4 linked regions of the Homo sapiens genome follow. The protein of the gene in region 1 binds, or shares a complex with, the protein of each later gene. Each region holds a gene or a part of one and is shown in the gene's direction. Other genes may lie near its edges. The genes, in order: ROPN1L, LRRC23, DNAJB13 and DYDC1.

Region 1 (7,706 bases):
TTTCCAAGCTAGCTACTTATTTTCATTTTCAGGGTTGAGTACTCTAAGCTCTCTACTTACTGTGAGAAGTTTTCTACATTGTAAAATTAAAAGATTATATTTAAAATACTTCTTTAGGATGTTATTCAGCCATCAAAAAAAAACCCAACTAAAATGTCTTACCAGTAAAGTATTATTAAAAGCCTCATTTGTGGAGATTCGCTGACTTCCTTGGTTAAGCTGTCTTGTATTTACTTAATTTGTCCCCTCAACCAGGTGTTTTCTTTTCAGCCTGTTACTGTCCTGTGCCATTTTTAAAAATAGCCATCATGAGTAAGGGCTTCTTTAAAATAATCCCTGACAATATCTTTGGCATTAATACGACATAAAGACAAGACAGTATATGTATGTTTTCATTCCTGTTTTGTACGAGTGCCTCATTTTGTAGTCATGAAAGTAACATAGTACCTTAAATAAAAATGTAATGACTAATCTAAGGTCTAGGAATAACTATTGTAGAAGCTAAGTAGAACACTTAGTTTGGGGTGTCAATTTTCTATCAACGCAAACACCTTAGGGTACCCAGACCAATTTTATGTATATATATTCTGAAATGCTCCCTTTTTAATGTGGTCATTTGTTGCCTTCTAAGTTGAGAGGACAAAACTGAATAAAGTGAATGTTAATTGTAGTCTAGTTTTTTTGTTTGTTTTTGTGTTATTGCAAGATTGCTTTAAGATTGCAGAAATATGCATTATTAGCCAGCATAGATAATCCAGATGTTATAATAGGAAGGAAAAACAACTCCAGTTAAATGTGACTGTGGCGACTCCCTTTTATGTATACATTTAAATGCATAGTTGCAGAGGACACATCCCTCCCCTTCTGTCTCCCTAACTTGAACTGTAGACCGTCCTCACTGGGAAGAGTAAGGCCCCACATTTTGTGCAATAGCAAGCTACTGCCCACTTCTGCATGTCTGCTACGAGATCAGAAAGTCAGTTTCACTAAGGTTGTCTTTTAGCTGAATACTTAGAGTAAAACCAATCAAATCCATTGTACATACCTGACCATATGTCCCAGATAAAAAGGAAAGACTTGCGTGATGTTTTTTTCCTTCTGAGTGCCCTGAGGAGATCCTTTTGCTTCAGACTATTTCTAATTTTTCTTTGTTTATAGGTTCAGAATTTTTTCCATGATTGTTTTCCCCCAAACAAGTGCATTTTTAATTACTTTAAATGCAGGGGTGATAGAGGAAATGCTATTCGAACCATAGACATCTTTAATCTGTGAAGCTGAAATTTTTCAGCAAAGGAAATTGCATGGTCAAGTTCAGAAACTGGCCATTAATTTCCCCCTTCCGCTCCACAGTTCATAGCTACTCTTGTTGCAAACATGTAGTGATAAGGAGAACTAACGTATCAAGGGGCTGAGAGGGTAACGTTCCCCTCCTCCTCCATGTTTTTATTTTGGTGTCTGTTTTGTTTCTAGCACTGTATTTAGTACTGTAGTTGAATGAGGTATGATGTCTCCCTTCAAGGAACTCAGAATGGAACAGAAGCATGAGCAAAAGATTGTATTACAGAGGTATGAATAAAATGCCATGGGGAACACAGAGAAAGGTTCACCCGGGAGAGATGGCCTAGCCACTTCCTTAGTGACTGTTTGGTATATGTAGGTCCCCCTGCCATTACTCTTTCAGCCTTCTGCAATCTAGTTCTACTTAGTCACACACTTCTCTAAGACCACTCATACGTAAACACTACGTAGAGGCCCCTTTTTGCCTCATTTTACATTGTTTAGTTATCATTTTGAAACTTTTCTTCACATATGTAACAGTGCCGGAGTTTTTCTGCTTCTCTGTGTTTGTTCAGTAACTCTTCTTTAGGATACACCTAAAGATGAGAAGCTTCATACCCAGTACTCCTCTTCATTCACTCATATGTTTTTGGGATCAGTCCCTTCTGCTGGCTGTGCATTGGTCTAATGGAACAGAATAGAGTCCAGAAATAACCCAACATGTATGTGGACAACTGGTTTTTGACAGAGGTGCAAAGGTCTTGAAAAAATGATGCTGGAATAATTGGGCATCAGATGCAAAATTAAAAACAAATTGATCCATATCTTAACACTGGCAAAGATTAAAGTCCAAATGGATTATAGTTCCCCAAAACTGTATAATTTCTAGAAGACAACAAGGAAAACGTGTTCAGCCTTGGGTTAGGAAAAGATTTCTTAAATCCAACACCAAAAGCACAATCCATGAAGGAAAAATCGATAAATTGTACTTTATCAAAATTGAGAACTTCTCTTTGAAAGGTACCATAAGGAGAACAAAAAGACAAGCTGTAGAGTGGCAGAAAAATATTTGCAAAACATTTCTGATAAATGAGTTGCATCTAGATTACATAAAGAAGTCTCAAAACTGAACAAGTAAACCCATTGTTTACTTAATCGCTGTTTCTCCTGAGCTTGCTGCCTCTGCCCCTGCTCTCTCTCCTTTTCCATTTGTTTTCAACATTGAATCCAGAATGTTCTTCTTGAGATCCAAGTCAGATCACACCAACCCTCAGAACTCTCCAATAGACGACCATGGCACTCAAAAGTCCACAATAGCCTTCAATGCTGGGCAAAACATGAAGCACCCCTTTTCTCCCTTCTCTGACCCCATCACCTCTGTGTTCACCCTGCTCCTGCCGTCCTCCCTGCCTCCAAAACAGGTCAGGCCTTCGTGCCTTTGCACTTACTATTTGCAATACCCAAATGTTCTTCAGGCTCTTTAGCCTCTTCATTTCTTTCCTGAAGTGTCATTCTCACTGAGGCTTATCTAAAGCTGCAGCTACTGGGGCATTCCTGTCTCATCTCCCTGCTGTATTTTGTACTCCCGGCTCTCTTTTGTACTTTTAAACATACTATATGGTTTACCTTTGTTGTTTATATTTGCATGTTGTTTCCCACTTGAATGTAAGCTCCAAAGATTTTATTTTTTTAAACTGAATTATTACTGTATTCCCAGAACAATTCCCTGGCAAATATTTGGTACTCAATAGTAATGCTAAGTTAGTAAATAAATGATGAATTTAGAATCAAAATAATGTGTCTATGGCCAAAATAAAACCTGAAATCCCTGTCCTATTTCCCAGAGGTAACTGCTGTTAATAGTTTAGTTGTGTGCTTCCAGACATACCTTCACAGAATCATTTATCACAATAAAGGTGTCATACTATGCAGATTGTTTGACAAGATGCTTTTTTTCACTTTACACGGGCATCTTTTCATACCATTGTGTGGCCAGGCCATGATTTGTTTTCCAAAAGACATTTACCCAATTTATATGGTGAAGATTTTTGTCCATATTACTTTTTATAGTATTTCTGTAGGGTAAGTTCCCAGAAGTAATATTGCACGATCATCGAAAAATTTTAGTGTTACATTACTGCCCCATAAAGGTACTAATTAACATCCCTCTCAACAACATAGAAGATTCCTTTTTTTTTTTTTCTTTTTTTGGGTGGAGGGGGGCGGGGACAGAGTCTTACTCTGTCGCCCAGGCTGGAGTGCAGTGGTGCCATTTCTGCTCACGGCAACCTCCACCTCCCGGGCTCAAGCTATTCTCCTGCCTCAGCCTCCCAAGTAGCTGGGAATACAGGCACGCGCCACTACGCCCAGCCAATTTTTGTAGAGAAGGGGGTTTCACCATGTTAGCCAGGCTAGTCTCGAACTCCTGACCTTGTGATCAGTGCTGGGGTTACAGGCGTGACCCACCGCGCCCGGACGGATTTCTTGTTTTCATACTGTCATCAACTTTAAATACAAGTATTTTCAGTTTTTGCCAATGCTGTTAATTTAGAAATGTGTATGTATATATTGTCTGGTGGGTGTTTGGATGGAAACGATCAAAATCGGGCAACTTCCCCAGTTTCCTTGAAGGGAGTGCTTGCCATCGGCCCCTCTGGGAAGTAGCTCTCCGTAGTTCTCCATCTTCCTGTTTTGAGGAACGCAGGAGGAGGTGGATCTGGAGTCTCATCCATTCGGTGGCTGTTAACGGCAACTGCAGCAGCCAGCCAGGTCACCCCCTAAAGCAAAGTTAACCCCTTGCATGGTGCCTTGGTCAGCACCCACCAAATTCGAGGTTTCTCCTATCCTTCGACTCGAGGCTCTTTTGACAGATGTGATTTATTTCCTCCTAGAGCCAGTCACATTGGCTCAAGCAACCTATCGTAAGAAAACAAATACAATAGTGTTTTAGCTGGAAACTGCCCACTGTCTAAGCGGCTTTTTAAATTAAGAACTCAGGTTCACTACGGGATGGCTTAGGCCAGGGAACAGCATGTGCGAAGTTCGAAGCCCGAGAAGTTTGGAGGAGCGGCCCCAGGCGCAGGCGGGTCCCGCAGCGGGGCCCGTGCCGCCCAGGCGATCAGCCCCTTCACTTAACCCGCTTCCCTCCTAGCAGGCCCGAGTCCCCTAGCCTCAGCCTCACGCAGCCAGAGCAAGGGGAAGAGGGAGTCCTTCGTGAGTTCGCCGCTCACATTCGGCGGTGGGAAACCGATCCGAAGATGCTTTTGTAGGCGAAACGCTCAGCTCGCGCGGCTCTGAACCACCGGGGAGCAGCGGCTGCTGCTAGTCGGACTACGCCAGCACCTCCTTGTCCAGCCCGGGAGCAGCCCCGCCTCGCTCAGGGCCGCGTGCGCGTGCGCGGCTCCAGGGGCGGGGCCTGCTCGCGTCCCGGGTGCCTGGATACCGAGCGCGTCCGTAGTGGCGGCTGGCGCTAGGGAACTGCAGGGTCTAGGGTGTTGTCGGAGTGGCAGTTGGTCCGAATTTCTCCCGAAGCCCGCGGAGGAGCGGGTAAGAGCCCCGCGAATCCGGCCCCAACCTCGGGAACGGGATGGGAGGCGGCCCTGGCCGCAAGCCCCGCGCTGCTAGCGGGTCCACCGCGTCGTAGCCGACAGCCGCCCTTCTTCCTCGCAGCGCGCCGCGATTCACCAGCCTGGTCCCTTCTGCGGAGAGCGATGCCGCTTCCCGACACCATGTTCTGCGCTCAGCAGATCCACATTCCCCCGGAGCTGCCGGACATCCTGAAGCAATTCACCAAGGCTGCCATCCGCACCCAGCCGGCCGACGTGCTGCGGTGGTCCGCGGGGTAAGCGCCCTTGGCCCGGGGAGCTGTCCGGTCTACATGCCCAAGCCAGACGAGCCCAGAGAGCCCTCCTCCCGGACCAGGGGCCTTACGCGGCACTCAGCGTCCTTAAGAGTATCAGGCAAAACTTTCCCCTTAGCATTGGTGACATCTATACTTGAGTGTTTTATCTAGGAACCATTTCGATTTATCGACTATGAGACCCGAAATCATTGCAAAATGCTCACTTACCTACAACGTAATGGCAACTCAATTGTTTAAAAGTGTTTATGATGAAGATAGACTAAAACTTAACAAAGTAATTGCATTGGGCAAAAAAGTGTTTACATTATGTTAAAAAAATTACACGGTTGCAGTCACTTTGTGAAATGACTTTACAAAGAGGAATATTTTAGCTAAGTTCCTCATCTGCAGAGAGTCCTCTCAGAGCTATGTATACCCAGAGCTGGTTAAATTTATTAGAACCGGAACGACCGTGGTCATACTGAGGTCATCATCCCTAGAGTGCTCAGGGTAAACTGTCCAGCAAATGAAGCTTCACAGTTTATTTTTTGCCACAAACATTCCAACACTTGCCAGGAACAGACATTCATAATCTCAAAGTTACAAGTCAACAGATCTTAGAGGCATTAAAAGAAATCCTCTTGGTTTTACAGGAGAGCTCTTTGCCCCTTTTCAATAAACAGATGTAAAACAAAAACTCACTTTTATGATGACAAGAGTCAGCACAGGTGTAAATTTAATTTAAATATTTTAGTCATCAACATTTCAAATTTTGGCTGGGCTTGGTGGTTCATGCCTGTAATCCCAGCACTTTGGGAGGCCAAGCTGGGAGGATCACTTGAGCCCAAGAGTTTGAGACCAGCCTGGGTAACACAGCAAGACCCCATCTGTATTTTTTTTAATAAGAAAACTAATTTAAAAAGAAAAAAAACAGCCAAATTTTGCTGGCTTTAAACTCTATAACCAAAGTGAATTAGTTTCGTTTGGCTGCTGTAACAAATCACCACAAAACTTGACAGCTTAAAACACAGACATACATTTGGGCCGGGCGCGGTGGCTCACGCCTGTAATCCCAGCACTTTGGGAGGCCGAGGCGGGTGGATCATGAGGTCAGGAGATCGAGACCATCCTGGCTAACAAGGTGAAACCCCGTCTCTACTAAAAATACAAAAAATTAGCCGGGCGCGGTGGCGGGCGCCTGTAGTCCCAGCTACTCGGGAGGCTGAGGCAGGAGAATGGCGTGAACCCGGGAAGCGGAGCTTGCAGTGAGCCGAGATTGCGCCACTGCAGTCCGCAGTCCGGCCCGGGCGACAGAGCGAGACTCCGTCTCAAAAAAAAAAAAAACACAGACATACATTCTTGCAGTTCTGGAGGCCAGAAGTCCAAATTAGTTTCACTAGGCTAAAATCAAGGTGTTGACAGGGCTTTGCTCTTTCCAGTGGTTCTCAGGAAAACCCAGCTCGTTTCCTTGCCTTTTCTGGCTTCTAGAGCTGCATTTCTTGGACGCCTTGGCTCATGTCCCCTTCCTCCATTTTCAAGGCCAGCATCTTCAAATCTCCCTCTGCCTCCTTCTTCCAAGGACACTGGTGATTGCATTCAGTGGCCATCCAGATAGTCCAGGGCAGTTTTCCCACCCGAGATCCTTATCAGTCCACAAAATCCCTGTTACCATGTAAAGTAACATTCCCAGGTTCCTGGAACATGGACCTGGATACCTTTGGGGCTGTTATTTTACCCACCAACTGAGCTACTTGTCCATCCAGTGCTTGCCTTCTGAGAAATGCTTTTATCAATGGTTTCTGAAAGACTCTTTCAAAGTTCTTGCTAAAGAAATATAGCCTCTGGTTTTAACCATTATTCAAGCTTAAATAAAAGGATTTATAAGAGTTTGTGCTGTACAAAAAATTCCAAGATTTAGCAACATCTTCTTGGAACATTAAACTATATTTAGTAATACCTTAGAGATAGTTATGTTAAGCTTCACTTTGTTTATTTATTTATTTATTTTTGAGACGGAGTTTCACTCTTGTTGCCCAGGCTGGAGTGCAATGGCGAGATCTCGGCTCACGGCAACCTCTGCCTCCCGGGTTCAAGCGATTCTCCTGCCTCAGCCTCCCAAGTAACTGGGATTACAGGCACTTGCCACCACACCCGGCTAATTTTTGTATTTTTAGTAGAGATGGGGTTTCACCATGTTGGCCAGGCTAGTCTCGAACTCCTGACCTCAGGTGATCTATCCACTTGGGCCTCCCAAAGTGCTGGGATTACCAGTGTAAGCCACCGCACCTGGCCTAAACTTCACTTTAAGAGGCTTAATCAGGCTGGGCATGGTGGCTCACACCTGTAATCCCAGAGTTTGGGAGGCCAAGGCTGATGAATCACCTGAGGTCAGGAGTTCGAGACCAACCTGACCAACATGGTGAAACCCCATCTCTACTAAAAATACAAAAATTAGCTTGGTGTGGTGGCACGCATCTGTAGTCCCAGTTACATGGGAGGCTGAGGCAGGAGAATTGTTTGAAACCGGGAAGCAGAGGTTGCAGTGAGCCAAGATCGTGCCACTGCACTCCAGCCTGGATGATAGAGC
Region 2 (7,478 bases), on another chromosome or scaffold:
GCCTTATTGGGCTAATCGCCAATTTGGGTGTTCACCTGCCCTGCATCAGTTGTGCCTGTGAAAAACTACTGCACTCCAGCTGTGACCGGTTGAGGGTAATTGTCCAGGTTCTTGGTGTTTTGCACAAAGAATTCGACAAAACACACAAACAAAGCAAGGCAATGAAAGCAGAGATTTTTTTTGTTTGTTTTTTTAATTACCGTGCCCGCGAGACGGAGTCTTGCTGTGTCGCCCAGGCTGGAGTGCAGTGGCACGATCTCGGCTCCTGGGTTCAAGCAATTCTCCTGCCTCAGCCTCCTGAGTAGCTGGGATTACAGGCTTGCACCACCACGCCCCGCTAATTTTTGTATTCTTAGTAGAGATGGGGTTTCACCATGTTGGCCAGGCTGATCTCCAACTCTTGACCTCTTGATCCACCAAAAGCAGAGATTTATTTTAAAGGAAAGTACAGTCCACAGAGTGGGAGCAAGCTCCAGCAAGTGGCTCAAGAGCATTGGTGACAGAATTTTCTGGGGTTTAAATACAATCTAGAGGTTTCCCATTGGTTCACCCTATGCAAATGAAGTAGTGGCCGACTGCCAGTCTAATTGTGGGAGGGGACCAATCAAAATGAAGAGAGTAGGCCTGCTATCAGTCTGACTGGTTGTGAGAGGGGACCAATCAGACGTACTTTCATTTTTCAAATGCCATACAGAGAAAGGAGGGTTTGAAAAGGGAGTACTCTCTGATATTCAGTCAGCATGATTCGGCCTTAGATTCCCTGCCTCCGGACCCTATTCTCCTGCCTCTCAGCCTGGACAATGTAGTGAGACTCTGTCTCTAGAAAAACACAAGAAAGTTCCGGGCGCGGTGGCTCACGCCTGTAATCCCAGCACTTTGGGAGGCCGAGGAGGGCAGATCACGAGGTCAGGAGATCGAGACGATCCTGGCTAACACAGTGAAACCCCGTCTCTACTAAAAATACAAAAAATTAGCCAGGTGTGGTGGTGGGCGCCTGTAGTCCCAGCTACTCTGGAGGCTGAGGCAGGAGAATGGCGTGAACCCGGGAGGTAGAGCTTGCAGTGAGCCGAGATCACGCCACTGCACTCCAGCCTGGGAGAGAGAGCCAGACTCCATCTCAAAAAAAAAAAAAACAACACCAAAAAAAAAAAAAAAAAAAGGAAAAACGCAAGAAAGAAAGGAAAGTGGTAGTATATCCACATAATGGAAGACTAGACAACTATGAGAAAAAGAGGTAGATTTATGCTTAGTGACATGAAAGAAGCCCAAGACATATTAGAATTGAATAATTAGAAGAAAAAAACCCTAAACTAATCTAAAAATCTTTTTTTCTTTTTTTTTGAGACCGAGTCTCACTCTGTTGCCCAGGCTGGAGTGCAGTGGTGCGATGTCAGCACACTGCAATCTCCGCCTCCCAGGTTCAAGCGATTCTCCTGCCTCCGCCTCCGGAGTAGCTGGGATAACAAACGCCCGCCACCACGCCCGGCGAATTTTTGTATTTTCAGTAGAGACAGGGTTTCGCCATGTTGGCCAGGCTGGTGTTAAACTCCTGACCTCAGGTGATCCGCCCACCTTGGCCTCCCAGAGTGCTGAGATGATAGGTGTGAGCCAAAGCGCCTGGCTTTTTTTTTTTTTTAGACAGAGTCTCGATCTGTTGCCCAGGCTGGAGTGCAGTAGCGTGATCTCGGCTCACTGCAACCTCTGCCTCCCGGGTTCAAGTGATTCTCGTGTCTCAGCCTCCCAAGTAGCTGAAACTACAGGCACAAGCCACAACGCCTGGCTAATTTTTTTTCTTTTTTTGAGACGGAGTTTCACTCTTGTTGCCCAGGCTGGAGTGCAGTGGCGCGATCTCAGCTCACTGCAACCTAGGCCTCCTGTATTAAAGCGATTCTGCTGTCTCAGCCTCCCGAGTAGCTGGGATTACAGGTGCGAGCCACCACCCCAGCTAATTTTTTGTATGTAGAGACGGGGTTTCACCATATTGGCCAGACTGGTCTCAAACTCCTGACCTCAGGTGATCCACCCGCCTAGGCCTCCCAAAATGCTGGGATTACAGGCGTGAGCCACCACGCCCAGCCTAAATATTACTTTTATAATTGAAAGAGACTCTATCTAGACCAGCCGATGGGGGAAAAATATCAAGGATGTTGTGGAGTATCTAGCTCTCATTACACAGTGTAACTTCAGTCCTTGCCAACTAAACACGAAATAAAACCTTCAATAGCTCCCCACAGCTTTCAGGATAAAGTCCAGATCCTTCAGTGTGATCCAAGTCTGTTTACTGCTTCTACCATATTCCAACCCCCGACTGCACCTACTGTTCCAGCCAGCAGAACCACCTGCTTTCTTTGCACAGGCATTGAGCTCTTTCTTCTCCAAGCATTACCACAGGTGATTCCTGCCTCTGAAATCTCTGCCCCGAATATATGATATCATGTATATGCATATACTATACAATGATCCCTAGCACTTAGTAAAAGCTCTATAAATGTTGGGTATGATTATTATAACATGTCTCATTATATTGAATTACTTGTGTACTTAATCTTGTCACTGAACTGTACACCTCTTGAAGATAAAAGATAAGGACTTCTGTGCTTTACTGTCCCGGAGCACAGGGACAGATTAAGTGCTTAACAAAAGCATGGCAGGGCGCAGTGGCTCATGCCTATAATCCCAGCACTTTGGAAGGCCGAGGCGGGCGGATTGCTTGAGCCCAGGAGTTTGAGACTAGCCTGGGCAACATAGCAAAACCTTGTCTCTACAAAAAATACAAAAAAATTAACTTGGCATGGTGGCGCACACCTGTAGTCCCAGGTACCCAGGAGGCTGAGACGGAAGGACTGCTTGAGCCCAGGAGGTGGACGTTGCAGTGAGCTATGATTGCTCCACCGCACTCCATCCTGGGCGACAGAGGGAAACTCTATTTCAAAACAAAAATAAAAACAAAATAACAAAAGTGTATGTTCAAGGACACCTTCCTAACCCTTACATCACAACTTTTCTTCCCATCTAATGTGTCTTCCTCTTTCTTCTTGGCCAAGGAAACTCATATCCATTTCTTTTGACTACATCAAACCACATGGATTTTTCCCTTCTCCACACTCCAACAATACAATAACTTTCATTTGTATAGCACATCTCACTCTTCAGAGTGTTCATATTTATTATTTCTTTTTCCTCACAGCAACCCCAGTACCAAGGACACAGGCCAGGGGTGGGGAGGAGCAGGAAAATGTTTACTAAGGGTCAACTAAGTGCAAGGCGATTTACCCACATTATCTCTTTTAATCCCTTAACAATCCTTACAGGTGGACGTTTTAATAATCCCCATTTCACGACTGTGGAAATTAGACCTCAGTAAGATTTCATAACCTGCTGAAGGACACACAGGTATTAAGTAGTAGAGATGGGTTTTGAAGCTGGTGTCTCTGACTTTAAAGTCCCTACTGGTTCCATGACACCAAGTAAACAGATTTGCCTATTAACCACATTCCTCCAAGCTGCCCTGGGCAGGAGGTAATATAATACTTCCTGATTTCTTGCCCACCACATCTTCCACCAGACCACTTTGCCGTTATATAAAGTCTGTGGGCACAATTTAACAATGAATCACATGCCATCTTACCTGGTTACCTCATTGTTTCATTTACATTAGATTCCACAACAAGATTGGTAACATCCCCCTTTCCCCAGGCAGGAATTGTGTCATCTTAACCTCCCTGAGCCTCAGTATCCTCTTCTTTCAAATGTCTATCTTACAGGACTGTTGCAGAGATTAAATATCAGTTGTAAAGATGTTTGACATAATGTCTCGCACAAACTCTCCAGAAATATTTATTGCATCTCAACATCTTTTTCATCTCCTTCAACATGTCAGACAGGCCTGAGTGCCTGGGTTTGGCTATGCCAGTTCCTGTTGATTACTGATATAACAACGTTGGATCAGGAGTATTTTAGTGGGCAGATGTTGAATTTTCTGCCTTCCACCCACTAAAAGGTTTGCATCAAACCAGTCCAGGATAACTCATACTGGATCCCTGTCAGTTGATATAGTTAAGCTAATTCTACAGATAACAAAGAGTCTTGGGTACGTTTAGCTAGCAAATGCAGATCTGCCAAGACTCCAACCCAGTTCTTAAGGTATCTGGGTCTGGACTCCTTCCGCTCCACCAAGCCACCTTCCAAAGGTCTACCTGAAAATAACTAATGAGCAGAAACTATAGGGGGAAGGGGAAAAGACCCCTTATCTTGGTGTTTCTTGCTTTTCCTCGCAGCCCCGCCCTTTTTGCTTCGAAGGACGAGTTTTTCCTGAATTCACAATACTTTTGCATTGAAGATGTCCGGTCCCTTTAAGGTCTTGGGTGACGTAATGACTAGCCCCGCCCCCTCTCTTCTCGCTTCTCAGCCCTGCCCACTTCTTTTTGTCCTCAGCCAATTAGCGGCCCAACGCCCCTTCCGCGCCTCATCCGGGTTCCCGGGACGGGAAAGTGGCGTGGTAACCAGGCAACTACTGATCAATCCCCTCCCCGGCTGATTTGCGCATCAGGTAGTCGCCGCTCTACTCTCAACGGTGGCGAGCTGCAGTTGCCAAGTGCCCCGTCCCCGTTGCCATAACAGCAGTACACAACCCCTCCTTCCCCTCGCCCGCTTGCTAAACAGTCCTTCCCTCTCGGGACCAAGGGCCTCTCCAGAACTGCTTCTGATTGAGCAGAAACAGGGTCTGAGCCCCTTTGCTAAGGCGAATTGAGTGGGAGGGTTGGAGACTGCGCTTTAGGCTGGTGTACCAGAGGGCCCAAGGAAATTGGCCCAGTGGGGAGGGAAAAGTAGAAGAAATGAATGGAGCAGGGATTACGGATGGCGCAATGGGAGCTGAGAGGAGAGGAGGAGGAATTGGTAGGGAAGATTGGAGAGCATGGCTTAAGGGGGAGGTGGGAAGAATGGGGGAGAGGGAAGCCCAGGAAATAGGGACACCCGGCTGCTGGAGGAGAGCTGGAGTCACTGTGAAGGACAGGAAAGGCCTGGGGGTGTGGGTGACATCCTGAAGGGAGGGGGTCCTCAGTGGAAAGTGTGAAGTGGGAGTTGAGAATCAAAATGAGATGTTCACAGGGATAAGGAAAGAAGCCTAGAGTTGGTGGGTCAGAAGTCATGGGGGTGATGGGAGTGGCACGTGTCAATGACGATGAAGGAGCTGAAGGCTGGCAGAAGCTGATGAGACCTTCTTTTTCAGGAGGAGGACTGAGCTTATCTGACTCCAGAGCTTTCAGGAGGGAAGAAAGATGTCAGATGAAGATGATCTAGAAGACTCTGAGCCAGACCAGGATGATTCTGAGAAAGAAGAGGACGAGAAGGAGACAGAGGAGGGGGAGGACTACAGAAAAGAGGGGGAAGAGTTCCCTGAGGAAGTGAGAGCCTGGACAAGGAGGGGTCCTAGGGCTGAAGGAGGGGGTTGGGCAGGGGAGAGACACCTTACTCCACTTCTACCTGCAGTGGCTGCCCACCCCCCTCACGGAGGACATGATGAAGGAAGGGCTTTCTCTGCTCTGTAAGACAGGCAATGGGCTGGCTCATGCTTATGTCAAGCTGGAGGTTAAAGAGAGGTGCGTTTTGGGGGGACCAGATGAGGACTGTGAGACTGTAGGGCCCCTATCTCCTTTCCCACTGTCATTCCTGGGTGTTCTGGTTGAGAGTTTGACTCTTCTCATGCCTAGTGGAAAGGGAAGGACAGAATTTACTTTTCAGGAGCTCTGAGACTTCTCCTATCAAAGCTGACCTGGGGAATTGGAGATTGAGAGTATATGGGGGGATTCCTGCTGGATTCCCTTATTTGTCTTTCAGAGTATGGGTTCTCTGTCCTTCACAGACACAGGTCTCTCTGCCCACTGTTAAGAACCCACCTACCTTCTCTTACCCTTCTTCTCCCCTACCATCTGTTGCCCATTCTTCTCCCCATTATAAGCCATCTCCATATTGCCTTCTGCTTTAGCAACTCTGCCAGTCCTCACTGGGTGCTTAACCCTAAACCTGGTTTCTTCTCCCTCTTCCATCTCCTAGGGACCTGACAGACATCTACTTGCTGCGCTCCTACATCCATCTGCGCTATGTGGATATTTCTGAGAACCACCTGACAGACCTGTCTCCACTCAACTACCTCACCCACCTGCTCTGGCTCAAGGCTGATGGCAATCGGCTGCGAAGTGCCCAGATGAATGAACTGCCCTACCTGCAGATTGCTAGTTTTGCTTATAACCAGATTACTGACACTGAAGGCATCTCTCATCCTCGTCTTGAAACCCTGAATCTCAAAGGTGGGTCTTTAGGATGGGCTACACAAGATTCTTTCCTTCCTAGCCTGAGGCCAACAGAAGTGGGCAGTATGGTCCTTGGCTAGGGCACATGGCAGTCTGCATTCATTCATTCATTCAGATACGCAATATGATTCATTATGACAGTTCTACATGCTAACCATATAGGATCCAATAAGACAAGGAACGTCCCTATTCTCATATAGCTTATATTCTAATTGGGAGAGACAAACAAGTAACAACAAACACAGTAAGTACATTCATGTAGCATGTTAAAAGGAGACAAGTGCCTTGGAAAAAATAGATCAGAGTAAGAGGAATGGGGGACACAGGTGGCAATGTCAAATAGATTGGTTAGGACAACCATCACTGAGAAGATGACATTTGAGCAAAGAATTGAAGAAGGAGAGGGAATTAGACATGTCAGCTGCTTCATTCACTCTTCAAAGGCTTAGGTGGATATGTCCATCAGGACCTTGGACTACCTACCACACCACTTGCCTCAGGGCTCCAGAGGTATTAAGTCTGGAGCTGGCCTTCCTCAGTATCTACCCTGCTTTGCGAATGGTAGGATGATTTAGAGGCTCCCCAAATTCAGGCTCTAATGCTGAGCATTTGGAGTGGCCCTTTGAGCTCTTGAAACCCTCCTCCCCAGGGAACAGCATCCACATGGTGACAGGTCTGGACCCCGAGAAGTTGATCAGCCTGCACACAGTGGAGCTTCGGGGGAACCAGCTGGAAAGCACCCTGGGAATCAATCTTCCTAAGCTGAAGAACCTCTACCTGGTAGCTCACTGGGTCAGAGGGTGGTGCAGGGAAGAGGGCACTGTCCTGGGGGTCAGGATGCCTGCTTTCTAGTAGGCTCAGCTACTAACTTCATCATTATGATAATAACTGGTATTATTATCAAGACCATAGTTGGTTCCAGATGCTGTGGAGATACACAGCCACCTAGCAGGGCTGATAATATATAATGTGTGGATAATACAGAGATAATTTACCTTGATACAGGTAGTAGCAAAATGGACCATAATTGAGGTACAAACATCAGTCTGTGGAAATGTTTTAGGAAAACCCTCCTCTCAGACTGGGTTTTTCTTCAGCTCTTACACTACCACCACAACAATCATCAACATACGACTTCCGGGACCAAAGGTGTGGGGGTTTCTCCCC
Region 3 (7,324 bases), on another chromosome or scaffold:
ATTGTTACCCTGGTTCTTCCAAGCGTCCAGCTTACCTGCCGAGCTTCTTTCAGTCATCCTCTGGTGTCCTCTGACAATTGTCCTCTGCTTCCGCATGCTCTAGCGTTCCTTCACAGGGGTTTTCGTTGCCCCACATTGGGTGCCAGAAATGTTGGAGTGATCAGACCCAACACCAGGCTGTGGGGGCTACAAAGTCTGGCAGAGTCGAAGGAATGAGACAAGACAAGAATGCATAAAGTGGGTCCAGGGGGCCAACACCAGTATGGCAGCTGCGAAGGCCCTGAGCTCTGGGAGCCCACGCTCTTTATTGGTGATCAAACAGAAGCAGGTGGTGAGGACGTGAGGACATGGGGTTAGAAAGGAAGCGGTGCATCAAGCGTTTGACCTATAGCTGTGGCAGTTTAGCATTTTCTTTTAAGCATATGGAGTATGCTCTGCTACTCGAGATAATGGAGAACGTGTTTTTCTATCTCAAGATAACAATCAATTTACAAACCTGGGACAGCAAGAAGCAAGGAGCCAGCAAGTCTGGACACATTCCAGAGGCCACAAGGGGTTTTATTCCCTGAGCCCTGGATTGCATCCAAGCCACGAGGGGTTTTATGCCCTGGGCTTAGATTGTGGTGTGGCAGGGCAGCCTTCCACCCTTTGGCACAGAGCTTGGTGTTCCAAAGGCCACGAGGGGTTTTAGACCCTGGACCCAGGACATGTTCCAAGACTCTCTTACGTTATGTCAGACAAGCAAGACTTGCCTCAGCTCTTCTAGCAACACATTGCCCCAGTGATAGACCAATGGACAGTAGTTCCAGACACCAACCCATGCATATGTGGAAATTTCATATCTAACACAGCAGTCAGTACAGATCGGTGGGAAGACAATGGACAATTAAATAAATGATCTGAGCAGTTGGATATCTTTCAGAAAAGATACTATCTTGCTCCATATACAAAAAAATAAACTCTAGGTGTGTTAAATATTTAAATGTGAAATGGACTTTCGGAAGATCATATAGGTGAAGATCTTTATGCCCTCACATAAGGAAATATTTCTTAAACTAGACACACACAAAACGTGTAACCAGAAAGGAAAAGATTGATACATTTGACTTTTAAAAAGGTGAAAAAAGCTTCAAGTTGAAGAAAGGATTCGTATTTCATATTATCAACAAAGAGTTTGTTTTCAAAAAACATAAAAAGCCACTAGTCAGTTTTTTTTTTTTTTTTTTTTTTTGAGACGGAGTTTCGTTCTTGTTGCCCAGGCTGGAGTGAAGTGGCACAATCTCTGCTCACCGCAACCTCTGCCTCCCAGGTTCAAGCTATTCTTCTGCCTCAGCCTCCCAAGTAGCTGGGATTACAGGCATGCGCCACCATGTCCAGCTAATTTTGTATTTTTAGTAGAGATGGGGTTTCTCCATGTTGGTCAGGCTGGTCTTGTACTCCTGACCTCAGGTGATCCATCCACCTCGGCCTCCCCAAGTGCTGGGATTACAGGCATGAGCCACTATGCCCGGCCTGTCAGTTTGTAAAAAGGATAGTCAAATAGAAAAAAATGGGCAAAAACATAAATAGGTGTTTCACAATGAGGAAAAACAAATGGCCAATAAGTATGAAAAGATACTCAACCAAGAAATGCAAATTAAAATCCACAATGAGATGCCACTTTATGCCTACTATATTGGCAAACGTTTTAAAACTTGACATCAAGAGTTGGTGAGGGCCAGGAGTGTTGGCTCATGTCCATAATCCCAGCACTTTGGGAAGCTGAGATGGAAGGATCACTTGAGCCCATGAGTTCAAGACCTGTTTGCACAATATGGCAAGACCTCGTCTCTACAAAAAATTTAAAAATTAGCCTGATGTGGTGGTGTGTGCCTGGGTTTCCAGCTACTTGCGAGGCTGAGGCAGGAGGATTGCTTAAGCCCAGGAAGTCGAGGCTGCAGGAGGTTGAGCCATGATCGCACCACTGCACTCCAGCCTGGGCAATAGAGGGAGACCCTGTCTTAAAAAAAAAAAAGAGTTGGTAAGGATATGAAGCAAAAGAAACTGATACACTGCTGTTGCCAGCGTAAATTAGAAAACCACACCAGAAAACTTTGGCATTGCCTTGCAAAGTGGGCGCATATACCCAAATGTTCATCAACAGAGAGTACTATACAGCCTGTGACAATAAGTCACACACACAAATACCTACCATTTGTATAAATGATACCATTTATATAAAGTTCAAAAATATGAAAAGGTAAATATGTTGCTGTGGATATTTGCAGTGTGGCACTGGAGCTGGCTTGTACTGGCTTGGGAAGAACTGGCAAATGCCACAAAACAGCACACCACTGGGTACAGGCATATGGAGTAAAGCTCTAAAGAAAAGCAAGAGAATTACAAACAGGTAGGGAGGGGCACATCGGGGCAATATTCCTTCAACAAGGAATGTTCTAATGCTGCTCTTTTTCTTCCTAAGAAGAAAAAACAAATAGAAGTTAGCTGGGTTGAGGCGAGGGTCTGTGGTGGGTGGGGTGGGAGGTTCTGAGCAGAGGTAGCAGCAGAGGTGAATGAGGAGAGGGGATGGCTGGTTTGGGCAGTGGCAGGCACTGCAGTCCATTCTGACAAGCAGTGGGTGCGTGTAGGGCAGTGGTGAGAGCTCAGGTGGAAAGGGAGGCACCAGATCACAGAGGGCCTGTGTGCCATGGTAAGCAGTTTGGAGTTCACTCGAAGTAATGAGGAGTGTGGGCTTTGCAGAACAGAGACAAGGCAGGCAGGCCCGCGAGGAAGTTGTTGTGGTCTTGCTGAAAGATGAATCCAGAGCTGGGCCCTGATTATGAGGAGGAAGAGCAGAGGAGCTGGGCTTGAGAGGTTGTCTAGGAAGCAGAATGGACTGAGCTTGGTGACCAGTTGGATTTGGGATGTGCATGGAAAACAGGGCTCTGCTGTACTCAGAGAGGTGGAGCATAACTCCCTCACTGTAAGGGTGGGCCGCACAGTGACTGCCTTCCAAAGAGTGCAATACAGCAAGTGGGGAAGGAGGGCTGGCGCGGTGGCTCACGCCTGTAATCCCAACACTTTGGGAGGCTGAGGTGGGTGGATCACTTGAGGTCAGGAGTTTGAGACCAGCCTGGCCAACATGGTGAAACCCCGTCTCTAGTAAAAATAACAAAAATTAGCCGGGCATGGTGGCACATGCCTGTAATCTCAGCTACTTGGGAGGCTGAGGCAGGAGAATCGCTGGAACCCGGGAGGCAGAGGTTGCAGTGAGCTGAAATTGTGCCACTGCACTCCAGCCTGGGCGATGGAGTGAGACTCCATCTCAAAAAACAAAAACAAACAAACAAAAAGAAAAACACCAAACAAATTCCAATTGCAGGACATTCTACAAAACACCTGACCATTATTACTTAAACTGTCAAGGTCATCAAAAACATGGAAAGTCTGAGAAACTGTCACAGTCAGGAGGCACCAGAGGAGATGCAACAGCTAAGTGTAACGTGGCATCCTGGATGGGGTCCGGAACAGAAATAAGATATTAGGTTAAAACAACTAGTAAATCTGAATAAAATGTGGATTTTAGTTAATAATAATGTATCAATATTGGTCATTATTTGTGACAAATGTACCATACTAATGTAAGATGTTAATAATAGGGGAATGTGAATGCAGTGGCTCACACCTGTAATCCCAGCACTTTGGGAGGCCAAGCCGAGCCCAAGAGTTCAAGACCAGTCTGGGCAACATGGTGAAACCCCATCTCTACAAAACATACAAAAATTAGCCAGGCATGGTAGTGCACGCCTGTGTCTCAGCTACTTGGAAGGCTGAGGTGGAAGAATCCCTTGAGCCTGGGAGGTTGAGACTGCAGTGAGGTGTGATCCTGCCACTGCCCACCAGCCTGGGTGACAGAGTGAAGACCCTGTCTCAAAAACATGATAATGATAATAATAATAATAAAATAGGAGAATGTGGATGTGAGGTATATGGGAACTCTCTGTACTGTCTTCTCAACTTTTCTAAACTCTAAAACTGTTCTAAAATAAATGTATTTTTAAAAAATTAGCCAAATGCATTTCTTCTAAAACCTTTTTATTAAAACTAATTACTGCTCTCTTTAAAAACAAAAACAAAATAAAACAGAGCCCTGTGAGTCTTCAATTTCCGAGTTGAGTGACCTTTCACAGGGTCGCAGAATCAGCCCCAGCTCTCCCCCAGTCCTTTCACTGACTCCTCTCTGTGGCAGAGCTGAAATTTGTTTAGGGAAGTGGGACTACAACTCCCAGAGTGCACCTGTGCGGTTGTCAGGAGCAACCAAGGAAGCCAACTAACAGCCTTGCTAGAGTCTGAGGACTATCCAGGGCCTGACTGCCAGCTAGCCAGCCATGGGCCAGGATTATTACTCTGTGCTCGGGATCACTCGCAATTCAGAGGATGCCCAGATCAAGCAGGCGTAAGTTGGGGTGGGAGCCAGGCCTTAGGGGTGTGCTGGGGCAGGCCCTGCCCTCTTCTCTTCCAAAACGAGCTTTCCTGCACAGCTTAGCGCAGACAAGGTAAACCTTGTTCCTCCTTTCACTTCTTGCATACCTGTATCCTGGCTTTGGTCTGGGTCAGGGCCCAGGTTGGAAATTTGAACTCTTTAGTTCCTCAATCTGCTCCCAACCCATCTCCCTTTATGCTCCATGCCCTATATCCTCTCCTGGGTGCCTTGCTTTTCCCAGCAATGAAGTGGGGACAAAGGAGCCATTTGAACTTTATCTTGAATATTATGGAGAACCAGAGGCTTGTGAACAAGGGAGTGGCCAGGCCAGATGGATGTTTTAAATTCAATTCTGGCCATGATGGAGGTTTTCAGCATTGACTAAACTACATTCCTGAATACTTCCATCGGATCTTAAGGACGTTCTGGCTCGTTCCTAAGAAAGCCTACAACAGGAGTCAGTACATTTTTCTGAAAACATGTTTTTGTTTTTTGTTTTGAGACGGAGTCTTGGTCTTGTTGCCCAGGCTGGAGTGCAATGGCGTGATCTCGGCTCACCGCAACCTCCACCTCCTGGGTTCAAGCGATTCTTCTGCCTCAGCTTCCCAAGTAGCTGGGATTACAGGCATGCACCACCATGCCCAGCTAATTTTGTATTTTTAGTAGAGATGGGGTTTCTCCTTTTTGGTCAGGCTGGTCTCAAATTCCCGACCTCTGGTGATCCACCCGCCTCAGCCTTCCCAAGTGCTGGGATTATAGGTGTGAGTCACCGCACCTGGCCAAAAACATGTTTTTTTTTTTAACAAATATTTATTGAGCGTCTACCACAAGGGTTGAGAGGGTACTTCACTCCTGCTGCAGTGGTAGCAGCTGGAGATAAATGTCGGAATCCGACATCGACACTCCCTTACCTCATGCAGCTAGATTTTGTTGCTGAATAGATGTTGAATAAGTCACCACAACTGTGATGAGTGTTACAGAAGAGGAAGTATGGGGGGCTGTGGAAGTTATCTTGGAAGGAGAGAGACCCTTTAGGAGGCTGTTCGTGGTAATCAAGGCAAAAGATGAGGCCAGAGAAAGGGGAGGGAATGGACTTGGTAATTAAGTGGATCACTGGAGGGTGAAGAAAAGAGGAGTCCAGGATAACTCAATCAATTAAGTTAGGCAGTGACAATAGGTGTATGTTTTGAGTGTGTAGGTGCTGTTCTGAGAACTTTCCATCACTGTTTAACCCTCACAACAGCCCTGAGAATTAAGTGCCATTATTATCCCACAAGTGCACTAGTAAATGGTGGAGCCAGTGTTCAGATATCAGGCCTCCCAGAGTTGCCAGTCATGGGCCTATTCCTGGGCCAGGTCCTGTAGGGGATCAGTGGCATAAGTGGAGAGTCTGCGGTGTTGGAGAAAAAAGACACAAACTCATGAAAGGATCTGAGAACAATTCAGGACAGTGTATGATGTCACCCACTCTTCGGAGCATCTCATTGACCAGAAGGACCCATCCAGGGAAAGGTAATCAGGAGGAAGGGCAGTGGGCGTGCAGAAAGATAAGCACAGCTTAAGCACTGGAAAGGGCTGGATCAGAATCCAGATTCACTTACCTGCTAGCTGCGTGACCTGGGCAAATTACTTAACCTCTTTGAGCCGAAGTTTTCCCATGTCTAAAAATCATCATCATAATAAAGGTTGCTGTGAGATTGAAATAGGATTAGATGAGATAATGCATGTGTCCAGCAATCATTTGCATGTGAAACCATGTCATATAAAGAGTGATTAAGGCCTGGCATGGTGTTTCATGCCTGTAATCTGAGCACTTTAGGAGGCCAAAGCAGGAGGATCCCTTGGGCCCAGGAGTTTGAGAGGGCAGCCTGGGCATCATAGGGAGACCCTGTCTCTACAGAAAATTTAAAAATTAGCTGGGCATGATGGCACACACCTGTAGTCCCAGCTACTTGGGAGGCTGAGGTGGGAGGATTGCTTGAGCCCAGAAGGTAGAGGCTGCATTGAGCTATGATTGCACCACTGCACTCCAGTCTGGGCAACAGAGCAACACCTGTCTCAAAAAAATAAAAATGGCTGGGCCGGGCACCGTGGCTCATGCCTGTAATCCCAGCACTTTGGGAGGCCGAGGTAGGCGGATCACGAGGTCAGGAGATCGAGACTGTAGCAGGACGAGCCGCAGAAAAAACCTCTCAGACACCGAGTTGTAGAAGGAAGAGCTTTATTCAGCTGGGAGCATCGGCCAGCTACTGCCTTAAAATCCGAGCTCCCCGAGTGTACAATTTCTGTCCCTTTTAAGGGCTCACAACACTAAAGATTTCACATGAAAGGGTCGTGATTGATTTGAGCAAACAAGGGGTACGTGACGGGTTTCATGCACTGGTAGTCAGAGAGAAACAGAACAGGGCAGGGAGTTTCACAATGTTCTTCTATACAATGTCTGGAATCTATGAATAACATCGGTTTCTAAATTATGAGTTGATTTTTAACTACTGGGTTTAGGCCAGGCAGGCCCAGGCCTGGTTTCAGGCCTGGCGCTGGGCTGCCTGTCTTTGGTTTTACTTCCTTGTTGCTTTTTTTTAAAACAGGTACTGAGTATAAAACAATATGAGATGGTCGCTCTCTTCCCTCAAGACCATCCTGGCTAACACACTGAAACCCCGTCTCTACTAAAAAATACAAAAAATTAGCCGGGCACCTGTAGTCCCAGCTACTCGGGAGGCTGAGGCAGGAGAATGGCGTGAACCCGGGAGGTGGAGCTTACAGTGAGCGAGATTGCGCCACTGCACTCCAGCCTGGGCGACAGAGCGAGACTCTGTCTCAAAAATAATAATAAAATAATAATAATAATAATAATAATAA
Region 4 (7,168 bases), on another chromosome or scaffold:
CACACACCTGCAGTCCCAGCTACTTGGAGGGGTTGGGGGCAGGGCTGAGGTGGGAGGATCACTTGAGCCCAGGAGGTTGTGGCTGCAATGCGTTGAGATCTCACCACTGCACTCCAACCTGGGTGACAGAGCGAGACCCTGTCTAAAAAAAAAAAAAAAGAAAGAAAGAAAAGAAGAAGAAAGAATTCTATAAAGGGCATTGTTGGGAAAATTGGTTGAACTGAATGTGAAATGTAGATTATGTGACATAATTTATCCAAGTTAAATTTCTTAATTTTGAATAATGGAAATATGAGTAAGAGAATGTCCTTGTTCTAGGGCTGAATAATGGCTCCCAAATGTGTCTATGTCTGAATACCTGGAAACTATGAATATGTCACCTTAAATGGCAAAAGAGACTTTGTAACTGTGATTAAATTAAGGATCTTGAGATAGGGGGATTATCCTGGATTATCTGAGTAGGAACAATGTAATCACAGGTGTCACTATAAGAGGGACACAGTACGGTCAGACAGGGAAGGTGATGACAGAGCCAAGGGAGAAAAAGCGATGTGATTCAGGGCCTTGAGCCAAGGGTATCCTCTAGAAGCTGGAAAAGACAAGAAAATGGATTCTCCCCAGAGCCTCCTGAGGAACCTGCCCTGCTGACACTTTGGTTTTAGCTCTATAAGATTCATTTTGGACTTCTGACCCCAAGACCTGTAAGGGAATTAAAAAAAAATTGAGTGGGGTAGTGATGGAGGGTGGGGACAGAGGTGGGTGGTGTCTCCTGCCAATCTGTGTGGCCCACTTGAACCAATGCATTTGGATAAACAAACTTCTACACCCCTCTTACTCAAAGCTAGTCTGACGACAGATGACCAGCAGCATTCCATCACCTGGGTGAGAGGTGACAGCGTGCTGGCAGCCCTCTCTTGCTCTTGGCACCTCCTCGGCCTTGGTGCCCACTCTGGCCATGCTTGAGGAGCCCTTCAGCCCGCCGCTGCACTGTGGGAGCCCCTCTGGGCTGGCCAAGGCCGGAGCCGGCTCTGCTTGCAGGGAGGTGTGGAGGGAGAGGCGCGGGCGGGAAATGGGGCCGCGTGTGGCACTCGCAGGCCAGCGCAAGTTCCGGGTGGGCGCGGGCTTGGTGGGCCCCGCACTCGGATCAGCCGGCCAGCACTGCAGGCCCCAGGCAGTGAGGAGCTTAGCACTGGGCCAGCAGCTGCAGAGGGTGTGCTGGGTCCCCCAGCAGTGCCGGCCTGCCAGCACTTTGCTCGAATTCTTGCCGGGCCTCTACTGCCTCCCCACGGGGCTCCGGACATGCAGCCCGCCATGCCCGAGCCTCCCCCGCACCGTGGGCTCCTGTGCTGTCGGAGCCTCCCTGATGAGCGCCACCCACTGCTCCGCGGTGCCCGGTCCCATCGACCGCCCAAGGGCTGAGGAGTGCGGGCACACTACGTGGGACTGGCAGGCAGCTCCGCCTGCAGCCCTGATGCGGGATCCACTAGGTGAAGCCATTTGGGCTCCTGAGTCTAGTGGAGACTTGGAGAATCTTTATGTCTAGCTAAGGGATTGTAAATACACCAATCAGCATTCTGTGTCTAGCTCAAGGTTTGTAAATGTACCAATCAGCACCCCGTGTCTAGCTCAAGGTTTGTAAATGCACCAATCAGTGCTCTGTGTCTAGCTAATCTAGTGGGGACTTGGAGAACTTTTGTGTCTAGCTCAAGGATTGTAAACACACCAATCAGCACCCTGTCAAAATGGACCAATCAGCTCTCTGTAAAACAGAGCAATCAGCTCTCTGTAAAATGAACCAATCAGCAGGATGTGGGTAGGGCCGGATAAGGGAATAAAAGCAGGCTGCCTGAGCCAGCAGCTGCAACCTGCTCTGGGTTCCCTTCCACACTGGAAGCTTTGTTCTTTTGCTCTTTGTAGTAAATCTTGCTGCTGCTCATTGTTTGGGTCTGCACTGCCTTTATGAGCTGTAACACTCACTGCAAAGGTCTGCAGCTTCACTTCTGAAGGGAGACCAGCAACCCACCAGAAGGAAGAAACTCTGAACACATCCGAACATCAAAAGGAACGAACTCTGGACACGCCGCCTTTAAGAACTGTAATACTCACTGTGAGGGTCCACGGCTTCATTCTAGAACTCAGTGAGACCAAGAACCCACCAATTCTGGACACATTGGGACTTGTTGAGATGCAGAATCTCAGGTCCCACCACAGATTCAGAACCTGCATGTTAATAAAATCTCCAAGCGACCTGTAGTTACCAATCTACTTTGCCTGGATCACTGTAGAACTGTCCTTCCCCGAAGGCAGAATCACCAACTCTGCATTCTCTAGTCAGGGGGTGGCTGCCACACTGGTTACATGTGGCAAGCCGTATTGGCATACCTCCCCCTACTCTAAATTGCCCATTTTCAACAATGATCTGAAGGAAATGTGTTTGCCCAACAGTCGCTAAAATATGGTACAAAGACAGTAGAGCCAGCATAGAGCCATAATCTGAGGGCTGGAGGGGAAGGAGTCAAGGGGATGCCTTTTATTTTTTATTTTTAAGAGAGAGCCTTGGTCTGTCGCCCAGGCTGGAGTGCAGTGGCACAATCTCGTCTTACTGCAATCTCTGCCTCCTTGGTTCAAGCAATTCCGCTGTCTCAGCCTCCTGAGGAGCTGGGATTACAGGTGTGCGCCACCACACCTGGCTAATTTTTGTATTTTTAGTAGAGATGGGGTTTCTCCATGTTGGCCAGGCTGGTTTTGAATTCCTCACCTCAGGTGATCCGCCCACCTCCGCCTCCCAAAGTGCTAGGATTACAGGCGGTGAGCCACCGCGCCTGGCCAAGGGGATGCCTTTTAAAGCCCACTCAGACCAACTTAGGGTACACTCACCAATGGGGGGAGAGGCTATTTTTCAGTGTTTCCCAGAGCTCCTCTGAGGGTCTGCTTACACAGTTCCTGGACTTGCACTCAGTAGGCAAGGTGATAAGAATAGGGGTTGTCTTTGTTTACTGTATACCGCCCACGCTTGGCACACTGGGAGCTCTGTAAATATTTCTTGACTTATTCATTGAGAGAGTTCTGCCACCTGCCCTCATGCTTCCCTTTGATTTTTCCACGCCCAATCTGGCATTTACTAGCTCAACTAACATCTATTAAGGCCTCTCTTGCCTGGCACTGCCCCGCCCATAAGCTGAAAGAGAGCACAGGAAAGGCTAGCACATGCACAGACGACTAGGCCAGGGAAGACTGCAAGGGTTTGGGCCTGGTGGAGACTGGACGGCTTCCCGGTGGTGGGGCACCCGAATTGGTTCTGAAAGGAACCAAGCAGAGGTCACCAGCAAGAGCAAAGGTGCAGAGTTGTGAAACTGCCAAGCTATTAGCAGCTTGCAGTGACGGTCTTCCAGGGACTCTGGAAGGTCTTCCACCCTTTTCCGATTGGCTGCCCTTCCTGGTTCCTCCTCAAAGCCCGCCACCTCTTTGTCTCTCCCAGAGCATGCCGGGCTGCCAGTCAGGGTCCCTTGCTCTTTTGTGTGCCCCTACTCCTCCAGGTTTCTGTGTAGCAAGTCTCCTCGGCTCACCCACCCCGCGCGCCTCCACATACGCCTTTCCTCGACCCCTCACGAGCACACGCCCGTCCCGCGTGCCCGCTCCTCTCTGCCTCCCGCCCCGATCCTACGCTCCCCCTCCTCCCTGGACCCCGCCCCCTGGAGCGCGCCCGCTTCTCTCTGCCACGCTCCCCTTCTTTCATTCCCTCTCCTCTCTGCCCGTTGCCCCCTCGTGCGCGCTCTCCCTCCTGCACACCGCCTCATCTCTGCCGCAGGCCCGACTCCTGAACGCCCCCTCCTCTCTGGCCCCCTCCCCTGGCGCGCGCCCCCTTCCGCACGACCCCTTCTCTCTGCCGGGCGCCCCGCGCCTGCACGCCCCCTCCTCTCTGCCGCGCCCCCTCTACTCTGCGGCGGGCTCCTACTCCTGCACGCCCCCTCCACTCTGCCGCGCCCCCTCTACTCTGCCGCGCCCCCTCTACTCTGCCGCCTGCTCCTACTCCTGCACGCCCTCTCCTCTCTGCTGCGCGTTCCCCCTTCGCTGCCCACCGCGTGCCCTCTGCTCACCTATCCGCGCGCCCCTTCCGCTTTGCGGCGCCTACACTGGCTCCTGAGGCGCGAGCTCTCGTTGCCTGGCAACGGGACGCCGCTCCTGGGTGGCGAGCAGGCGCGTGTGTAGGGGTGAGCGCACCGGAAAGGCCCGAACTGTTTTTGGGATTTGTTCCCCTAGCTTCGCTGGGTCCGGCGGGCAGAGGCGGTTCTGACCGTTGGGCCTTGGGCGTCGAGCAGGACTCACCTGAGGCGGAGAGAGGCCGCTTCGCGCCTGGGGCTCCCGAAAGCGGCCAGCTGTCCTCCTGCTCCCCCTGAGCGGGGAGCGCTGCGTCTCCTGCGGGCTGCGGGAGACCCTTCCAGACTCCCGGGTGGGAAAACCACACTGAGCGCCCCGGGAGGTTGCCAGATACAATACTGTATCTGGCACCCCTGCCCGGGTGCCCCCGCCCAGTTGGCTGGCTGGCTGGCTAGCTGTCTCCCAGGTGTGGGTAAGGAATCTCCTTCCATCTCTGTGGCACCTTCTTCACGCTGGAGGCAGCTGTTTCTGTGGGAAAGGGCTTTCTTATGTTGAGCCAAGATGCCTATTGGTGTATGTGAAAAATAACATTGCTTACCACAGGAGAGATGGGTATTATCCTCGTTTCACAGACAGGAACATGCTAAGGGAGTTGGCAGGCCTTGCCTGGGTCCCACTGATATGCCCAGAAATCCGAGACAGAGCCTCCCCTGACCTGGCCCCGCTGGTAGGCCAGAAGTTTTCTCTTTAGGGATAATGGTCCCCTTCCTCCCTTCCCACATTTTATCCTTCTGGAGCAGCAACAGGAGTCTGTGCACCTTTTTTTTTTTTTTTTTTTAACTTCACTTCAAATGACTTTGAGATGTCTGTGTAGCGTTTTGGTCTTTCAGGTATATCCTACTGAAGAAATACAGTGAAGATACTGTGTTCCAAAGTCAGTTGTAATAATTCTTTTCTCTGTATGGTTGAGACACCAATATCAACCTCATTTGGAATTAGGTTCATTTGTGCCAGTTTGTTTTCCGTTTTTAGAGTTTTTATGACTATGTTTACATATACACACATACACATTCCTTTCCCCACTGCTGTTGCTAATACAAAAGATGACAGACCATATACAATTTCAGCACCTCGTTTTCTTTATTCTGTGTCTTAGAGATCACTCTCTAGTTTCTTCATTCTCTTGTACATCTGCATAATAATCCATTGTGTTGCTCTTATTAATCCCCAATTTGATGAACATTTAGATGGTGCTTCAGTGTGACTATTGTAAATAATGCTGCAAATAACTGTGTGCATATGCCATTTCATATTTTTGCAACTATATCTTTGAGATAGGATCCAAGAAGCAAGATTGATGAGTCAAAGGGTGAATGCATATGTGATTTTCTAGATGTTGTCAAATTCTCCTCCATAGGAGTTATACCATTTTGCCCTCCCACCACTGTCATATGGCATATGCACATAGTTATGGCATAAAATTTCAGAGACACTGACATCCTGGGGTTCATCCATAGAATAAAAATTGGGGGTTATGGACGGACCCCAGGATGTCACTGTCTCTGAAATTTTATGCAAAATGCTAGATGCATTTGTCCAGGGACAAGTTTAGACACAGTGGCATTCTATCCCCTGTAATTGCCATGCTCATTCCTATATCAGGGCCTTTCCTCATACCTAGAAGACTCTTCTCTTCTTTGTCGTGTTAATTTTACTGTTTTTTTTTTTCAGTAAATGTAAGCTTAGCTCAAATGTCACCCCCAAAGAAGCTTTTTTTTTACTTTCCTGACTTGATCAGCTACTCCTCTTGTCTGGTCTCATAGTACTTATTTTAACTGCAATTTCATATTTATTGATTTAAATATTTATCTTCCTTTCTCATCTATAAGCTCCATGAAGGCAGAGACTGTTTTTGTTTTAGTTTGCGCTGCTGTAGCAAATTACCAACACTGGGTGGCTTAAAAACAATACACATTTATTTCTCACCATTCTGGAGGCTGGGAAGTCTAAAATCAAGGCATTGGCATTTCTGGTGTCTGGTGAGGACCCTCTGGCTGGTGTGCAGGTGGCTGTCTTCTAGTTTTATTCTCAGATGGCAGAGAGTGAGAGCACGCTCTCCCATCTCTTTTTATAAGGGCATTAATCCCATGCATGACGGCTCCACACTAATGATCTAATCACTTCCCAAAGGCTCCTAATACCATCACATTGGGAGTTAGGATTTCAACATATGGATTTTTGGGGGACACAGATATTCAATTCACAATAGTTTTGTATTCCCAGTACCTATCATGGTGCCTGACCTATAATAGGTATTCTTTTTTTTTTTTTTTTTTTTGAGACGAAGTTTCACTCTTGTTGCCCAGGCTGGAGTGCAATGGCACAATCTCAGCTCACTGCAACCTCTGCCTCCCGGGTTCAAGTGATTCTCCTGCCTCAGCCTTCCAAGTAGCTGGGATTACAGGTATGTGCCACCACGCCCAGATAATTTTGTATTTTTAGTAGAGACAGCATTTCACTATTGTGGCCAGGCTGGTCTCGAACTCCTGACCTCAGGTGATCCACCCACCTCAGCCTCCCAAAGTGCTAGGATTACAGGTGTGAGCCACTGTGCCCGGCAAATATTCATTATACATTTGTTTAACAATTGATTACATTTCATCAGATTCTCAGGAAAAAATATATATATATATATTTTTTTTTATATATGAGACAGAGTCTCACTCTGTCGCCCAGGCTGGAGTGCAGTGGCACGATCTTGGCTCACTGCAAGCTCCGCCTCCCAGGTTCACCCCATTCTCCTGCCTCAGCCTCCCAAGTAGCTGGGACTACAGGCGCCCGCCACCACGCCCAGCTAATTTGTTTGTATTTTCAGTAGAGACTGGGTTTCACATAGTTTCCAAAAGGGCTCCAAGGAAGTCACTACAACTAACATGGTTTCAAAATCCTGAAGGACTCTCAAGTCCAAGAGTCAGAAAAGAGATATTATCATTATTGATTTCAAGTTTACTTGATGCCAAGTAATGTGGGTCTCATGTAATCCTCACAACATACCTGAAAAATGGGTATC

What was found.
Region 2: ROPN1L (region 1) and LRRC23 share a complex: the UniProt entries of both Homo sapiens proteins name them as parts of the axonemal radial spoke complex.
Region 3: ROPN1L (region 1) and DNAJB13 share a complex: the UniProt entries of both Homo sapiens proteins name them as parts of the axonemal radial spoke complex.
Region 4: ROPN1L (region 1) and DYDC1 share a complex: the UniProt entries of both Homo sapiens proteins name them as parts of the axonemal radial spoke complex.

Annotation. Positions count from the first base shown.
Region 1 is NC_000005.10:10,437,180-10,444,885, forward strand, and holds the start of ROPN1L (ropporin-1-like protein), read left to right. Parts: upstream 1-4,699; 5' UTR 4,700-4,988; coding exon 4,989-5,119; intron 5,120-7,706. UniProt on the Homo sapiens protein: Functions as part of axonemal radial spoke complexes that play an important part in the motility of sperm and cilia. Important for male fertility.
Region 2 is NC_000012.12:6,900,355-6,907,832, forward strand, and holds the start of LRRC23 (leucine-rich repeat-containing protein 23), read left to right. Parts: upstream 1-4,467; 5' UTR 4,468-4,721; intron 4,722-5,230; 5' UTR 5,231-5,279; coding exon 5,280-5,405; intron 5,406-5,490; coding exon 5,491-5,600; intron 5,601-6,054; coding exon 6,055-6,308; intron 6,309-6,960; coding exon 6,961-7,091; intron 7,092-7,478. UniProt on the Homo sapiens protein: Essential for sperm motility and male fertility. Plays an important role in the proper assembly of the third radial spoke (RS3) head and the bridge structure between RS2 and RS3 in the sperm flagella.
Region 3 is NC_000011.10:73,946,703-73,954,026, forward strand, and holds the start of DNAJB13 (dnaJ homolog subfamily B member 13), read left to right. Parts: upstream 1-4,323; 5' UTR 4,324-4,367; coding exon 4,368-4,435; intron 4,436-4,472; exon of another isoform or gene 4,473-4,535; intron 4,536-5,705; exon of another isoform or gene 5,706-5,974; intron 5,975-7,324. UniProt on the Homo sapiens protein: Functions as part of axonemal radial spoke complexes that play an important part in the motility of sperm and cilia.
Region 4 is NC_000010.11:80,353,755-80,360,922, reverse strand, and holds the start of DYDC1 (DPY30 domain-containing protein 1), read left to right. Parts: upstream 1-4,167; 5' UTR 4,168-4,211; exon of another isoform or gene 4,212-4,663; intron 4,664-6,439; exon of another isoform or gene 6,440-6,562; intron 6,563-7,168. UniProt on the Homo sapiens protein: Functions as part of axonemal radial spoke complexes that play an important part in the motility of sperm and cilia. Plays a crucial role during acrosome biogenesis.